Linked DNA regions of Homo sapiens: region 2 is linked to region 1. A link means that fine-mapping ties the variant in region 1 to the expression of a gene that starts in the linked region. Tissue or cell type: whole blood. Region 1 holds a variant in brackets; the other region holds the start of a gene. All regions are shown on one strand. Distances are between the middles of the regions. Region 1 overlaps LOC107984005 (a long non-coding RNA gene). Region 2 holds the start of ZNF706 (zinc finger protein 706).

Region 1 (9,125 bases):
AGGAGCTGAAAGAAAGAAGAGAGAAGGTAACCTCCTGGAGTGACAGAAATGTTCTACATTTCAATTGAGGAGGTGATTACTTAGGTGTTTACATTTGAAAGAACTAATCCAATGCACAACTACAATCTATGAGTATTATTAGATATAAATTTTCCTTCAATATAAATAAAATTTTAATTACAACAATAAGAAAATCCCTTCAGTCTTTGCCTCATTCCAAGGGTACAGTCCATATCTGCTGGGTTGTTTCACCCTAGAAAAATCTGTGAGAGGCCGGGTGCAGTGGCTCACACTTTGGGAGGCCAAGATGGGAGGATTGCTTGAGCCCAGGAGTTTGAGACCAGCCTGGGCAACATAGTGAGACTCTGTCTCTACAAAAAATATTTAAAAATTAGCCAGGCATGGTGCATGCACTTGTAGTCCCAGCTGCTTGAGAGGCGGAGGTGGGAGGATTGCTTAAGCCCAGGAAGTCAAGGCTGCAGTGAGCCATGATCACACCACTGCACTCCAGCTTGGCAAAAGAGCAAGATCCTGTCTCATGAAAGAAAGAAAGCAAGAATCTGTGAGGGATATTCAATAATCCTTCAGATGTGGAAAGAATGTGGCATAGCGACTGGCAGTTTGCCCAAGTGGTTGGTGCAAACCTTGAAGCAGTTGGGTTTAGCAAAAGCTTTCATGCAAGCTTAAAACAATGCCAGTAACGTGTGACTGTGAAATTGTAACATCCCCGCTGGAGCCTGTGTCACTGGAAATCTCATTTAGAGTGAGCTCGCATCTCCTTCTAAGCCACAGAGCCTGATGAATTGCTCAGCTGCTCTTTCAAGCAGTTCCAGTTTCAATGGCAACTGGGGAAGGAAAAACCCCAGGTTTTTAGTGTTGTGAAAAAACAGTCCAGTATAAAAGAACCTAAAAGAGGAGCCAGTGAACAAGACTATAGAATAATGAGGCCACATGCTCTGAGTTTGCTCCTCTTTTTTCCCATTGCTAGTTTAGTCCCAGTTCTAGTTGAGCTTTGTAACAACTCCCTCCCAAGGAGGTTACTTCAACCAACATGTTGTAAGTATTTACTGTGACCCAGGTATCGTGCCGTGTCGATGCAATGCAGATAAAACACAGATCCTGATCCTTGGGAAAGTTAAACTAGTGGATATTAGGCTGCTGTCACATCCATTATGTAACTTGATCCTTACAACCTCTCTGTAAGGTAAGTAAAGCAGGAATAGTTACAACTCCCATTTCACAAATGAGGAAACTGAGACTCAAGAGAAATTAAATGAGTTGCCCAAGGCCACATAGCAGGTAGTAAAGCTGAGATTTGAATTCAGGTATTCTTATGCTAGGTCCTCTGTTCTTTCCAATTCATGATGAAAGTGTATATAAAATAGGTACGATTCTTTCTCCACTATAAATTCATGAAAGCCTTGGATCTGAAGAATGTTGGGAACTCGTAAGCACAGAGCTAATGGAAAGGGAAAAGAATCAGGACAGGCTCAGTCTAGCCCTCAGGAAGGCACCTAGGCTATCACTTCTATACTGTCTGAATGGATATGCAGATTACTGGCCTGGCTCAGACAAGTGGTCCATATCCACAGGGATGTAAGCAGATGAACAGATGATGAATGTTAACCAGGCGTCTTAGTCCATTTGGTGCTGCTATAGCAGAATACCACAGACTAGGTAATTCAATAAGAACAGAAATTTGTTTCCCACAGTTCTGGAGGCTATAAGTTCAAGATCAAGGTGCTGGCATCCGGTGAGGATCTTCTTACTGCATCCTGACATGACAGCAGATGGAAGGGCAAGTGAAAGATGGACAAGCACTGTGTCTTTACATGGCAGAAGAGCAGAAGAAGGCAAATACACTCCTGCAAGTCCTTTTTATAGCAGCATTAATCCATTCATGAGGGCCCCATTATCTAACTTCCCATTAGGCCCCACCTCCCAACATTGTCACATTGGAGATTAAGTTTCTGACACATTAATTTGGGGGGACAGTCAGCCCATAGCACTGGGGAAAGCTAGTCAAGTTAATTAATTCCATTCATTATTCATCAACAATGTCATTCAAAGGTCTCAGATCTATAGGTGAGAGGCACAGGAAGCACAGCATGGCAGGGAGAGCTTCGGTGTCCCAGCAAGAGAGGACTCACAGTAGGTTTCTACGTCTCTATCAGAGTTCTTGGTGGAAAGCAACAGAATCAGACTGTAGCTCCCTTGAGCAAAAAATACTTTTTTAAGGATACAGGTGGCTCCCAAATCTAAGAAAAAGTTGAGGGACCAGACCTCAGAAGGGGCAGGAATCAGGGCAATTCTCAGGATTCAGGTAGCAAGAATAAGTGAAAAATCTCTTCCCAGTGTCAATTTCAACAGTTTTCTATGCTTTTTTATTTTCACCCAAGATCAATTTCCAGTGGAGGAGACAGCCTGATTGCCTGAGCTTGAGCCATCTGCCTCCACTTTGGCAGGTGATGGAGATGCACCTTGAATAATAGAACCCTGAAAACTGTGTGCACGGAAACCATAGTAATGAACTTTTTATGTTGTTACATTAATATGTATTGATCTGTCTTGCACTTTGAATTAATCTTTTATACGTGCATAATTTTGTAAAGTCAAACATTGGTCATTTGGAAAATACTGGTTCACTGAATTATGCAGATCTTCCAAATATTGACACTTTCATTATATAATGTCAAAACAATCATGTTCACTAATATTGCCACTGATATCAGAAAAATCTAAATATTCAGAAGCTGTTAATAAAATATGGAAATCTATCAAGCTCACAATAGTGGATACACATTTTCCAAAATTCTAATTTTGCTCAAAAGCTTGAACTTTATCCCTGGCGTCAAATACTGTCAATTGGTTTCCCCAAAGAGGCTCCCTTTGTCCAAGTTTGAAATAATGTCTATAAATACTTATGTCTAAATAAACATAGTTTGTCAATCATCCTTTCAAGTAAAAAAATGAGCTAATTTAGCTTGCAGACCAGACAATCACATAAGTGCTTTCTTTTGAGATAACAATCATACTTCAACATGTAACAGAAGGTTACTTGTATTTTTTCATATAGAATATTTTTAAAAAGTATACTCAAAGGTCAAAGGTTAATTAAATTTAAAATATTGACTTTTTCTTCAAGGGCATCAAGTGAAACTAGCTTTTTCTCTTTTTCTGCAAGTGCATGATGGAATACAAAAATACAACTACTATTACTATCTTGTATATAGTGTGTGGCACCAGCAGTTTTACCCACCAGTGGTTTTGTAGCATTGGTGCAAATGTTACCTACAGTGAAAAGGACAAATAACACTTTAGTATTCTTTTAAAAACAGTTTTGATCTCACAGAATTAATGAAAGGGTCTAGGAAACCTTCAAGGGTTTATAGATGACATTCTGAGAACAGCAGGCTTAAAGTAATTAGGATCTAGAGCCTAGGGTGGGGTTACTTTACCCTGAATCATGTGGGGAAAAAAGCGAATACCGAAACAAAACTAGGATTATTTCAGGAAAAAATAAGGAGTAATAGATTTTGGTAGGCAACCAGTAGTGTCCACTACATATGGGCACAATATAAGGAACCATAGCATAGTTTATGTGGTTAGCTGCCATGGACTAACCAATAGGTATAAACACCTTCCTAAGTATCACCAAGACAACCGATGCCCACATGCGAAATAATGAAGTCAGACCCCCAACTCACACTACATACAAAAATTAACTCAAACTAGATCAAAGGCCTAAATGCAAGAACTAAAACTATAAAACTATCAGAAGAAAATATAGTAGCACGTTTTCAGGACCTTGGATTTGGCAATGATTTTTTAGTTAGGACATCAAAAACACAAGTAACAAAAGAAAAAATAAATAAGTGGGACTTCATCAAAATAAAAAACTTTCCTATATCAAGGGATACTAACAAGTAAGTGAAAAAACAGCCCCTCAAAATGGGAGAAACATATGTAAATCATATATCTGATAAGGATCTAGAATGCTGAATATACAAAAAACTCCTACAACTCAACAACAAAAAAGACAAATAATCCAATGGAAAAAATAAGCAAAATACCTGTATAGACACAATACAAATGGTCAGCAAAGAACATGAAAAGATACCCATCATCCTTAGTCACTGGAAAAATGAAAATCCAAACCTCAATGAGATGCCACTTCACACCCACTGGAGCATGCTTTCTATAGTCCCATCCGGGCTTGCTATAATAAAAAATTTAAAAAAAAACAGAAATTACAAGTGTTGGTGAGGATGTAGGAAAATTGGAATCCTCATATATTGTTGGTGGGAATGTAAAATGGTTCAGCTGCTTTAGAAAATAGTTAGGCAGTTCCTCAAAAAGTTAAATGTTGAATTACCATAAGACCCAACAATTCCACTTCTAGGTATGTAACCAAAAGAATTGAAAACACATGTTTAAAAAAAACTTGTATATATGTTTTCACCATAGAAATATTTACAGTAGCCAAAAGGTGGAAACAACTCAAATGTCCATCAATGGATGAATGGATAAATATAATGCAGTATATCCATACAATAGAATATTAGTCAGTCACAAAAGGAATGAAGTACTGAACCATACCACAGCATACTGAACTTTGAAAACATTATGCTAAATGAAACAAGCCAGACACAATGGGACACATATTGTATGAAATGTCCAGGATAGGCAAATCCATAGAGGCAGAAGGTGGATTAGTGGTTGTCATAGACTGGAGAAGGGGTAAGGGAGTGACTGCTTCATGGGTAGAGCATTTCCGTTTGAGATGATATTCTTCTCCAACTAGATAGTGGTGATGGTTGTACATTGTGAGTGTACTAAAGGCCACTGAACTGTACTCTTTAAAATGGTTTAAATGGTGAGTTTTGTGTTGTGTGATTTTTTTTTACCATAATTAAAAACAAAAAGCTGCATGACAGCAAGTGAGGCCTGGGGATGTTTTGGCAGATGAATTATGACAATGATGAAAGTCCAAGATCTGCAACTATTTTAAAAAGTAACCATCACACAATGC[A/C]CTAGGTTCAAACCATAACAGGCAAGTGATATCCTGACAGAGAGACAATAATTATACTTAATTCAACTGACAAAGCTGTGAGACTTAACTGGCATGGATGTCTTGTGGCAATTCACAAATATATAATTGAATAAATAAGCAAATATACCTCCCTGGAAAAAGTGACAGAGTGAATCAAAGTACATTTGGCTCTAAATGTGACACTTGAAACAGACCTTGAAAATATTCTCATTTTATTTTAGAGATATTCTCATTCTCATTTTAGAGACTTACGAAGAACAGTTACGACTTGCTTAAGGTTCCATAGCTAGTTAGTAGGAGAACTTGACCCAAAAGAACCAATGTCCCACCTCTTTCCACCACATGATGTTCATAGTCAGGGCAATTCCATATGCACCTCTCAGAACAGTTGTCATCTGAATGTTTGTGAAGCCAAGGATGACTACATTTTCCCCGAGTATCCTCTGGGCTGCTAGACTACATGTGCACAGAGAAACCTGCCATCTACGTGTCCTACCCATGTGCTCTAAATCTTGGCTTGTGCCACCACCCAAGTTAGAGAGCTGGCTCCTCTACTTCACCCCCTCCTGTTCCAGAAACCAGTCACCAAAACTTCCAGTTGTGACTTTGGAACATCTAGCAGATTTGGACTCTTTCCCATTCTCATCAAGATTCCCTCACCTTTTATTTGGACTATTTTATACCACTCTTAACTGCCCACAGTTATCCACAGGTGAATACAACACTGACTCAAGAGACACGTGACTCTGAGGTGGAACTTAGTTCCAATCACTAGGACACCTACTATTGCTATCGATAGAATAAAATCTGGGTACTGTAGTATTCCCTTCCCTGGGTACAGTTCCAGACTAACAGTGACTACGTTTAAAAGACTCTGACCTTAACAGTGGCAACTGTGACAAAGTCTTGGTACTTTGTTCCTTCAGATGCACAGAGAGCAACTTTGACTTAGTATCACAAACAATACGGGATTATTTGGTTTCCTTGGTAACCTGCGGTTCTGCCCTAGGTGACAATCAAAGACTGTGGAGGTGCCAATTTTTTTCTAGATCTAAAAATTCTCATTCTATGAATATCTGGGGTTGTAGACAGCCTACTAAAGGGAGACTGGTACAAAAGTAAAGCTATTAAACTTTAAGATATGGGAGCAGAGGCAAAGCTGGCTGCCTGGGAGGCAATCTGGTGCAATTCAGGAGAAGAAAGATTGTTTCTTCCATGGGCAGAATGTGCTATCAGAAGCGTCCAACAGCAATCCTAAATTATCATTATCAGAAGTTTAAGTTATGTTCCAGCCCATCCTATTAATAAAAGCAGAGTAGTGCTTTTTTGTTTTACAAAATGGCTACAACCTATACATATCAATAATTAAATTGTGATTTTTTTTTTGAAAATGTTCTTATATTCTCTGATAATAGATGATGAGCTATTACTGTATTGTACTATTAGGAGCACCAGTTTTAAGCACAGACATTCATACTAGAGAGCAGAGGTTAGTGTCTGATTAATCCAGCAGCTTCTGGAGGGACAGGGAGAGAAATAAGAAAATCTTCAAATGGAACCTGAAGCCCCGAGAAGCTGCCATGTCATAGCTGGTCCTTCATGCAGGAACAGAGTGCACAGTCAATTGTGACCAATATTCTTGAGCAAGATAGGCTAAGGGTGGCTACTTTCTTTTAGGTAAGATGTGTACAGTTTTGCACTGAGGGAATATCAATGACCTCCACCAACTCCTTGCTTACAGTCCCCTTTGTTTACTGTTCCCATCAGTTTCTCTCTCTCTTGTAAGGAGTAAAGATCTTGCTAAGTTGCCCAGGCTGGAGTGCAGTGGTGTGATCATAGCTCACTGCAGCTTTGAACTCCTGGGCTCAAGCCTCAACTTCCAAAGTAGCTAGGGCTTCAGGTATGTGCCACCACACCTGGCTAGTTTTTGTTGTTGTTTTCTTGTAGAGATATGTTGCTGAGGATGGTCTTGAACTCATGGCCTCAAGCGATCATCCCACCTCGGCCTCCCAAAGCATTAAGATTACAGGAGGGAACCTGTCACATCTGGCCAGTTTCTCTTGATACAAATGTCTCCATAAAGAGTTTGGGAGAAACTTGTCAATTGGTGTCAAAAACACACCAAAAGACACTGTCAGTGGATCTCACCATGGGCCCTGGGGTAGTAACAAAAGAGATCAAGACATTTTCCATTGTTATTGGCTGAGCCTTGTCTACAGAGGCCTGGCCCCACAGAGCATCATTTGGGTCTCCAGAGGGCCTCATAAAGAGCAAGCCTTTGGCCAGGCACGGTGGCTCATGCCTGTAACCCCAGCACTTTGGGAGGCCGAGGTGGGCAGAGTGCCTGAAGTCAGGAGTTCGAGACCAGTCTGGGTAACATGGTGAAACCCAGTCTCTACTAAAAATACAAAAAAAAAAAAAAAAAAGACAGCCGTGGTGTCATGTGCCTATAATCCCAGCTGCTCAGGATTAGGCTGAGGCAGGGGAATTGCTTGAACCAGGGAGATGGAGGTTGCAGTGAGCCAAGATCGCACCACTGCACTCCAGCCTGGGCAACAAGCGAGACTCCATCTCAAAAAAAACCAAAAAAACAAACAAACAAAATAACAGACTAAAAAAAGAGCAAGCCTTCCTGCTCTGGACAGAAGAGGTGGCAGATAGCTAACCAAAATCTACCTTTGCTGCTGCTAAATGCTGGGTTAGAGAACACAGATCAGAGTAATCGCTCAAATGGGTCTGCTTACTGCAGTCTAAGGTTAGCCACCACCCAGGGGAAGGTGAAGTCTGCAAAGCAAACACTTCCAGGTGGCAGCCTTTTGCTAGTCCAAATAAAAAACGAAAAAAGACAAGACCAAATCCTACCCCATTCACACAGAGGTGCTGTGGGAGACACACTCTATGCAATAAACAAGCAGGGACAATGACTATTCCCACCATCTTAGGGCTCGCACCTCCTTGGTCGTAGAGGAAGCGGTGGGGTGAGAGGCAGCTGTATTTAGGGAAATCCTTTATAGCACTATCTGGCTTAGAGAGGAGAGGCAGCCCCATGTTTGTCTAACTCTAAAACAAACAATGGTTATAAAACCTTATTAAACCTTGCTGGGTTAGAAAATAGAAATATCTCAAATATTGATCCCCTGCCTGTCAAGCTTTGAGTTCTAAAGGCTGTTCACTTGCAAGATCTGCTTTGCCAAGACCCCGAGGCTGAAAATCCTGCAGGGGTGCCAGGAACAACAGGTGGCTTCCACACCTGGAGTGTAGTGTGTGCCTGGGGACAGGGTGGCTGCCCCTCCTCCACCCCCAGTGTCTGTGGGAGCCTTGAGCTGCTGGCATTCTATTAAACACCACTCGGATGTGCCAGGGACAAAGGTCTTCTGCCCAGAGCCTCGGTGCTTGTCCCTATTCCAGCTCCTTCTAGGGGAGGATCTGGCCCTCAACCTCTTCCCAGTTGGCTGGAGGTTCTCTCCCCTTGGCCTGGTTCCTGCCAGCTCTTTTCCTGTCTAGATTTTACCTCCCCTTCATTGGCTGGATACTCCTTGGATACACGCAAGGCCCTGAGAACCACTGTCACCACACTTTCCTCCTCTCTCCCTTCCTCCTTGGATCAGATATTGAAACCAGGCTTCTCCCCTTGAGTGCTGCTGACATTTTGCCCATTGAGGCAAAGAGAACTGGCAGGAAATGGCATTTCTGCTCTCTGCAGACACTTGCCTGGCATGGCACAACAAGAACCAAGGGTGAAAAGCTTTCAGTCTCCTTGTGTTCTTCACCCTCTTCTCCAGGCCCTCTCCACAGCCTCCCATCTTCAGCGCTTTCCTTCATCTTTCTTGGACTTATGTTTTCCTTCATTCTCTACTATCCACTTTTCTTCCTCTTCCTCTTTCTATTTCTGCTTTTTCTTCTGCCTTTTGTATCCCCCTCCACCTCTACTTTCTCCCCCATATGTAGTTATAATTTGATGGTCTACACTTGTAATATAGCCCCTAAAAACCTCTCTGCAGATGCAACTTCCACCTCAAACTCTCCCTTCCAACACTTTAGGTAGAATGGCCACTGTATGTCATTCCCTGAC
Region 2 (9,125 bases), 32 kb after region 1:
TTACATGTGGATATCTAGCTATCCCAGTAATATTTGCTGAAGACTCCTTGCCCCATTGAATTTGTTTGGTGCCTGTGTTGAAAATCAATTGACTATACATATGAAGGTTTATTTTTAGACTCTCAATCCTACCTCATTGATTTATATGTCTAATCTTATTCCAGTACCACACTGTTTTAATTACTATAGCTTTGTAATAAGTTTTTAAATTGGGAAATGTGAATCTTCCAATTTTATTCTTTTTTCAAGGTTGTTTTGGCTATTCTGGGCTCCTTGAATTTCCATATAAATTTTAGAATAAGCTTATGTAAAGATACCAGACAGGATTTTGATAGGGGTTGCACCGAATCTGTGGATCAACTTGGGAATTACTGCCATCTTTACAAAGTGTTCTGATCCATGAACATAAGATACCTTTCCATTTATTTAGGTCTTTAATTTCTTTCAACAATGTTATTTAGAGTTTAGAATACAAGTTTTGCACTTCTCTTGGTAAGTTAATTCCTAAGTATTTTATTCTTTTTGGTGCTATTCTAGTAAATCACATTATTTTTTAAGCCTATTTTTAAAGTCTCTGAAATCAAGATGTATCTTAGAATCAAGGATATCAGCATTTTGTCATAGTTCAGTTGGCAGTATTTTTTAATCTTAGTGGACATAAATGTGACTTACAATTAATGGCTCCTTAGACTCAATACAATATGCTATTAAATGTGAATGTCTATAAGACATCAGAGGGGAGATGAGTAGTAGGCATTTGGATATGTCAATTTGGAGATAGAAATGTGGGGGTCACCTGAAGCTTGCTATTTAAAGGCACAACAGTGAATGAGATTCCTTTGGAGAAAGAATATAAAGAAGACAAGAAGATCTAGGTTGCATGTGTGAGAAATCTCAACATGCAGAAGCGAGTGAAAGAGAAAGAGCTGGTAAAAAATAAATAAATAAAAATAAATCCATTTCTGTTCTAAGTTTATTGTTGCCATTATTGCTGTTGCTATTATTTGCCACTAAACATTTGTCAGAATAGTCTGTTTATTGGGAAAATAATATGTTGATTAATCACCAATTCTTTCATCCCCCCAAATCCTACATGAATACAAATAAACAAATAAGCCTTTCAGGTCTTTAGAGAAGCATTTTAATCTGATTGAGATTTTGGATAGAAAATAGGCACATGTTTATTGCATCTTAACCTTGGGTAATTGTCTAAAGGCAGAAGAAGAAAAACAGTCAGGAGAGTTACTGTAGCATTCACAATTAAAGCCAGCAATGTGTATAAAAATGCTTCTAAGGAGTTCATATCACATTTGCTGTCACATTTCTATAACATAAGTAGGACACCAGCTGGTAGTAATGCTAATTCATCCGCCTTTCATTTACTGAGTGTCACTTCACAGATGTTGAATCTTATCCATTCCTTGTTTCTTTTTTTTTTTTTTTTTTTCAAATTCCCTAACCATCACATAAAGTTACCATTATGCCATATCCTCTAGGCAGTGGTTCTGAATCAGGGGAGACTTTGACCCCCTGAGAACATTTCACAATGTCTGGAGACATTTTTAGTTGTCACAACTGGAGATGAGGTGCTACTTGGATAAGCAGGTAGGAGACAGGGATGTTGCTAAACATCCTACAATCCCCAGGTCTCACAGAGCCCCATAATAAAGAATCATCCAGCCCAAATTTCAACGGTGCTGAGATTAAGAAACACTACCTATGAGGATAAGTTACATGATAAGTACATGAACTTTCTGGGGGCAAAGTCAATAGCTTTCACCAAATTCTCAAAGGAGTTATGACTCAAAAACTTAAGAAACACTAGCTTGAATACATATTTCATCTAGGCCATGGTAAAGAGTGACATATTAACCTACTTCACAATAGGAGTCACCTCTTTAGTTAAGAAGACATATCTCTGCCACACAAATTTCACTGTCCCTTTCCACTGTCTACTGTCATTCACGGCTAGATAAACACAGATCTTTGAAGTTCCCATTTCTAGGGCCAACAAGTACCCATCCCTCTATCAGCCAGATTAACACAACCATTAAGGTTACAGTGACTATTAGTGACTAAGCTAGAGCTTCATGCTATGTCAATTTAAAAGCTGCTTTCTTCAGACATACTCGGTTCATTTGATCAATATCCATTTATTCAACGTCTACTATGTTTAACATACTGCGTATTCCCTGATGAAAATAATCTTACAATCTAGGACTAGAGAGTAATTTAAAACTGCAAGAAGGAAGTCAGAGCATAAAAAGTGAAGGTGAGAGAAGCTGAAATGAGGATGAAGAGGGAGAACTGAACACCCGGATCACTGCATGCCATGTTTCATTTCGTATTTTTCTCCACTCAAATGCAATAGGCAGCTAACTCCTTCCTGGCTAGTTTAAACAATTCTGTGGTATCTATAGCCCAGTCCAAGTCATTTGGGATATACTAATATTCAGCCAACATTTCCTGGGCACTGCCACGCAAACTTGGGAAACGGCACTACAGGCAAGGTGAGAACAGCCAATGCAAACACTTTTTTTTTTTCTCCTTTGTCACTAGTAGTTCTAATTAGAAACGAATGTGGCGGGGGTCGGGGGTAAGTATGCACAATAAAGCTGATGTCTAAAGTACTGTTTCCAGATATTCAGCAATTTTAATCATGGTTATAATCGCCATTGCTCTTGTCAGATATTGAAAGTTTGCTGCCACTGCCTGTAAATGGAGAGAGAGCGCGCGCAAAGAACTTTAACCATTCCCCGAAGGATTAGCAACTCAGTACCGTATATTGTTAGCAGTCAAACTAAACCCCTCCGGGAAGCCTGGCCAGCAATTTTTTTTTCTTTTTTTGTTTTTTTTTTTTTTTAGGCAGGGTCTCACTCAGTCGCCCAGGATGGAGTGCAATGGCGCGATCTCGGCTTACCGCAACCTTCACCTCCCGGCCTCAAGCGATTCTCCCACCTCAGCCTCCCGAGTAGCTGGGACTACAGGCGCGGGCCACCATGCTCCACTATTTATTTTATTTTATTTTATTTTTGTGGAGACGTGGGTCTCGCTATGTACTCAGGCTGGTCTGGAACTCCTGGGCTCAAGTGATCCTCCTGCCTTGGGCTCCCAAAGCGCTGAGATTACAGGCGTGAGCCACCGCGCCCGGCCTAGCCAGCAATTTTTAATACGACTTAGGCTTGAATCTTGAACTCACTAAAAGCCCCCAGCTTGGGAAAACACCTGGGGTTTCCATGGGAGTGAGGTAAAGGGCGGCTGTGAAAGAACAAAGGCTGTGCGTCCGCGTTCAGAGCCGCTGGGTCCGCCGGGCTCGCTGGGGGCCGGGGCCGCGGTGTCCTGGGTGGCGGGGCTCCGGGAATGTGACTCAGCCACCGCGGCCCCGCGATCCGCTCCCGGGCCAGCGCCTCAGTCGGTGCCGAGGAGGGCGGCGCCGAGACGGGCGCGTCAGCCTGGGAGGAGCGGGAAAAGGGTCGCAGCGCCTGAGGCCCGGCCGCCGCCCGAGTGGATGAGCGAGCGAGCGACTTGTGAAACACGCCGCGGCCCGGTCACCAACCAGGACCGGGATCACGTGGCTCCCAGGGCTGGGTGAAGAAGCCGCCCGGACCGAGCGCGCCGGAGAGGAGGGGCGCCTGGGGACAGAAGGCGACGTCCCCTGAAGTTTGTGTCAGCCAGGGCCCGCCCCCTCGCGCTTATGTAATAGGGGCGCGCTGCCATTGGCCCGCGCGACCAGCCAGGGCGCAGGCGTGCGAGCGGGGTGGGGGCCAGAAGGAGGCAGCCGCAGAAAGGCACATGGGCGGGGCTGCGAGGAGCAGGCGGGGCGGGGGCGCCGAGGAGAGCGGCGCGGCGTGCGCGGGCACGAGGCGTAGTGGTCTCCCCTAAGGCTGAGGCGGCGGCGGGCGCGCGGCGGCGGCGGGCGTGCGAGGCTGTTGTGCTCCCGGCTCTCGTGTTTCCCCTCCTGAGCGGGTGGAGGAGGCCCAAGCGGTGCTGGGCGCGCTCCCCCTTCCTTTCCCTCCGGCGTCCTCTCCCGGCCCTCTCGCGCTGCACTGTCTCTCCGACGCAAGACTGTCCCGGCCCGGGTGAGCGGCAGCGGGGGCGGTGCTGACGCCGCGGGACGCCCGGGAAACGGGGCGGGGGCCGGCCAGCGGGGGGCGGTGGGGACCGTGGGACTCGCCGCGGGTCGCGAGGGGTCGCGGGGGGCGGCAGGGCCCGGCCCGGGGCGGGCCGCGGGAAGGGGATGAGTTCGGGCGCCTGCCAGGCCCTGCAGGTGGCCGGGTCGCAGGCCAGCCGCGGAAGCGGAGCGGTAACCTTACCCCCGGCGACAGCCGCCGGTCAGCTGCCAGAGTGTGGCGCTCCCGGTGGACGCAGGGGCCGGGTTTCGGGCAGTCTCGGCCTCCAGGAGGCGCGTCTTGGTCCAGGGTCCGTGAGGACTGGCTAGATGGGGGCTGCGTGGCCTTTGGTGGCAGGGAGGAGGAGGGGGTCTCCGAGGCGGGAGAGGCGGGTTTGGGAAGGAAGGTGCGCCAGGCTGAAGCTGGGGTCGGAGAAGTGTTGGGTGGAGACCTCACTGTGGGTGCGTTCCTCCTCTCCTCTCCCCAAAACGATGGTGTTAAAAGCTAGGGTCAGGATGTGGAGCGCTGCCTGGGCCTCTTCCTTTCCGATGGTTATGGAGAATGAGCCTACTTCCTGGACCCAAAATCCTTTTCTTCTGTTACTCATTTATGTTGGTTTTAAAAGGAGCTTTGGGGCAGAGCTTACTTGTTGCCTCCTACGAGAGCGCCTCATTTTAGAACTCGTTTCTTCCACTACTTCCCTCTTTGCAGCCCCCTCGGAAAACCACACTGAGAGTTGCATTAAAAACCAGCATGTAGGTATTTGTAAGTGACTTTTTCCCTCCAGTTTGTCGCATTTAATCAAGGAGCGGTTGTAGCTGCCTACGATTTTGTAGAAAATTGTGTTGGCTTGAGAGCAAGTCCTAAGTTGAGCTGTCCAAAAGCAGGTGGTTGGTTCGTTTGAATTTCTGCTTTCAGAAAGGAAATCGATGGGGCGTGTTGTCAGAAGTTAGGGGCCTACCTCATGCATTTAGCTTATTTTATTCCATTTCCTTTACCTGGTGTTAAGTTTTCTGTCTTCAGAATAAGAACAAGTGACTACTGTCTTTATTAAGTCTCTTCGGTCTTTTTGGTTGCTGTTTGGTGACAATGGAAAATGGGTTGAATCTATTGTGTAATGTTATATTTTAGGGAAAGTCCTAAGTGCAAAAGTTAAAAATAATTTTGTGTGTCTAATGACATTGCTTTGTACGAGTCACAACATGGAAATATCAAAATAGCTAGTAACTTCTAGAAAGCAAAGGAACTTCTGAAATTAGTGGCTTACCATTTTTGAAGATTTTTTTTAACATAAAACAAGATTTCCCACAAAATCAGTGTATTAAGATACATAAAATACATTGTGTCGAAGAGTTAAGATGTGTGAGAAGACTGGCTATTTTGTTACAAGGTCCTGATAGTAAGACATTGAGACAAAAAACCTTGCAAAACATTGGTATACATAAAGGCTGATCACGTGACTACTGTCGTCCAAATAATACATAAGTATCCAAACCTGTTTCCATGGGAATAGGTTTGTAAGCTTGCGGTAACATCGGACTTAAATACACTTTTAAAAAAAATGTGCCATTTGGCTTAGAATTAATAATTTTTTTTAAAGCAAAAATGGAAGCTTAGTCTTCAAGGACTGATAACAGCTGGTAATATTTACCATTGTTTGGTGGGAATGGGGTTCTCATATTAGGCTAGCACGCTAAACATTTTCAATTACGAAAATGTATTAGGCTCGTGTGCTACCCTAATATAAAAACCCCATATTTCCTCAGTTGAAATAGTCAGCTGACTATCCTGAAAAGCATTGACCCTCTTTTATATTTTATCTGACTTTCAGTTCATTTTTTTAATGCTAGTGGGAACTTCTCCAATCAGTGTATTTTTTTAGTTTCCTTTTTTGGGGAACAGGAGGAGCTCAGTAATTTTTATGAAATGCTTTGACCTCATATCCATTAACTAATTATGGTCCTAGTCAGAAGAAGCTAGCACCCTTCCCTGGTGAAGTTGATACAAATCCATTGTATGTTCCTGTCCTGCAATGATTTACATTCAGTTACAGTACTAGTCAAAACTATATATATATGAATTCTACTTAGGATCCAATTTTGATATATTTAAAAAGCAATTGAGACTCATGATAGACTTTATGAGCAGGTTTAACTTGTGTGGTCGAATAAAAGCCTTTAATTTAAATGGAAAAGTAAAAGTAACTTTTTTCAGTGACTTGATTTTTTTTTTTGTTTTAATCCATTTGGGTTCACGTCAGATCATCGGTAACAAAAAGTGGTATCTTTCAGCTTTGTAAAAGAACCCTCTTAACCAAGTTCATTCCCTCAAATGGGAACTAACGTCTAGAGAGCAAAGAAACTTCTGGAATTAGTGGCTTGCTGATAATCTCATTTTATAATTTGTTCAGCAATCCAGCAAGACCAACTTTTTAAAAAAATTAATAACAGTAGTTTTATGAAAACTAAGTAAGAAAACAGTTTCCACCTATTTCTGAGGTCTCCTTTAGAAGGAGTAACAGACAGCTTTTATTTCTCTTAAAGTTATAAAAATCACAATCGCAAGTCACAATGAATACTGGGAAGGGAAATTACTTTTGCAGAGTGATCAAGTAAATGATAGCGGGGGCTAAACTTTTTTAGTAAACTTGTGAAGATTACATACAGTAAAGTGCATAAATCTTGAGTGTACAATTCAATGAATTTTTATAAGTAAACACACTTGATTCAAGAACATTTTCAGGACCCCATAAGTCCCCTTCATGTCCTGTCTTCCCAGTCATTACCCATAACCCCCAAGGTGACCCCTTTCACTATAGATTAGCTTTGCCTGTTTTGAACTTTAAATAATGTATATTCCCCACAACTGGCTTCTTTCCTTTAACATTGAGATACAACCAAGTTGTTACTTGTAACAATTTTTTGTTTGTGTGTTTGTTTATTTATTTTTGAGACCAGAGTCTCACTGTCGCCCAGGCTGCAGTGCAGTGGTGCCATCACGCGTCACTGCAACCTCTGCCTCCCGGATTCAAGCAATTCTCCACCTCAGCCTCCCAAGTAGCTGGAATTACAGGTGCCTACCACCATGCCTGCCTAATTTTTTTTTTTTTTTTTTTTTTTTGTATTTTTAGTAGAGACAGGGTTTCACCATCTTGGCCAGGCTGGTCTTGAACTCCTGACCTCATGATCCACCCGCCTTGGCTTTCCAAAGTGCTGGGATTACAGGCGTGAGCCACCGCGCCTGGCCACAATTTTTTAAATGCTGGGTAGTATTCCGTTGTATAAATACTATAAAAATATGTATACAAGTTGTGCATCCGTGTTACTATTGATGGGCATTCAGATTTTTTCCAGTTTTGGAATGGGCACTCAGAACATTTTGTACATGTCTTGGTGTACATAACATTTGCATTTCTATTGGGTATATACCAAGAGTGGAATTGCTGGCTCATAGAATAAACAGCTACCAACTAGTTTTCCACAGGGTTGTGTCAATTGATACTTTTGTAGCATTTATATGTGGGAATTTTAATACCTATAAATTTTTATTTGCCAGATATTTCTATAAAACTTAAGGCTTCAATTCTAAGAACGTTCTTATGCTTTGATTACTCTGTATTAGAGTAAATAAGCCACTCTAATGCTTCACCTTCTGTTTTTAGATATGGCTCGTGGACAGCAGAAAATTCAGTCTCAGCAGAAAAATGCCAAAAAGCAAGCTGGACAAAAGAAGAAACAAGGACATGACCAAAAGGCTGCTGCCAAAGCTGCCTTAATATATACCTGCACTGTCTGTAGGGTAAGGGGAATTGAATTGAAAGATACAGCTCTCCCGTGGGCAGTTTTGGCTTGAATAGATTAAAATTTTGAAACCATGGCAAAATAGATGCTTTACATGAAATAGTAGGTTTGAGAGCTGATTATTTTAGGTATCTATTTTCATTCACCCTTTAAACAAATATTTTTTGAATGGCTCCTGTGGCCAGGCAAAAATCTCTAGGTGCTGGGAAAACAGAGTGAACAAAACAAAATTGCTTTCCTCATATAAAATAAAGATGTCTTCATAAGGGCATATAATACACTTCACTAGCACATCATATAACTCTACACTCTTAGAGCTATATAATATGCTAGTAAGTATACCTCTAGTTATATAATTGGTTTTTTCTTCACTAAATTTATAATTAGGATGTCTGTAAAACCATATAGAGTATAATCACGTTGAGAGCTTTTCCTAGAATTAATGTGTTGTATTAGATTTGAAGAACTGTAATAATAACAGCTACTTTTGAGTGCTTACCATATGCCACACATAGAGCCAGGTGTTTTACATGTATTCACCTATTTAATCCACATAACAACCCTATAAGATAAAGTACTTTTATTGTTCTCATTTTACAGAAGAGTAAACTGACTAATGGAAATTAAACAATTTGTGTGGGGTCTCCCAGCTGGTTAGTAGAAGAGCTGGAATCTGAACTCAGGCAGTTCAGCTCCAGAGTCCACCCTCTGGACCACTACTGTACTGCCTCTCAAAGAAGTACTTCTGAAATTCCAAATCAGAGCCTCTTGCCTGTTTGTTTAAGCTCATTACCCTTGAAGTTAGTGAGTGGCAGTACCAAAGGAAACCATAGTGGAGTTAGTACACTACATATACACTCAAAATAATGAAATTGAGCAGCTTGTGATTGTTTGGAAAGAGGCAGGGTGCAAATTTTAATCAACTAGTAATGAAGAAATACCTTAATCTAAATGTGGTAGAGTAGTTACATATATTTAAAAACTCAAAACCACAGACTTTTATTTCATATTTTGTGTAATTTAATGGGTTAAGAATAAATAATTGAAGGTTCTTGCCAAGGGAAGTCAGTATAGTATAGTATTTGAGAGGTCACATATCTAGTACTAAGTTAAAATAAGGTCTTGGGCAAATTAAACTCTGGGTTTTAGTTTCCTTATCAGGTAAAATGATGCTAGTAGGAGCTAAAGATTACTTTGAAGGTTCTGTGGGAATTAA

The links. PIP is the estimated chance that this variant, and not a neighbour inherited with it, causes the effect.
Region 2: it holds the start of ZNF706, and the variant in region 1 is fine-mapped to the expression of ZNF706 in whole blood (TOPMed, PIP above 0.99).

The regions. Positions count from the first base shown.
Region 1 is chr8:101,232,878-101,242,002 of GRCh38, reverse strand. All of the region lies in intron 1 of LOC107984005 (a long non-coding RNA gene), which reads right to left. Among named protein-coding and RNA genes, the nearest start is that of LINC02844, 25 kb to the left of the region's middle. The variant A/C (reference allele first, on the strand shown) is at 5,033.
Region 2 is chr8:101,200,389-101,209,513 of GRCh38, reverse strand. It overlaps ZNF706 (zinc finger protein 706), which reads left to right and starts at 3,841. Exons shown (of 4, transcript NM_016096.5): 1 at 3,841-4,079; 2 at 7,771-7,907. The coding sequence starts at 7,773. RefSeq lists silencers at 3,277-3,496, 3,707-4,306.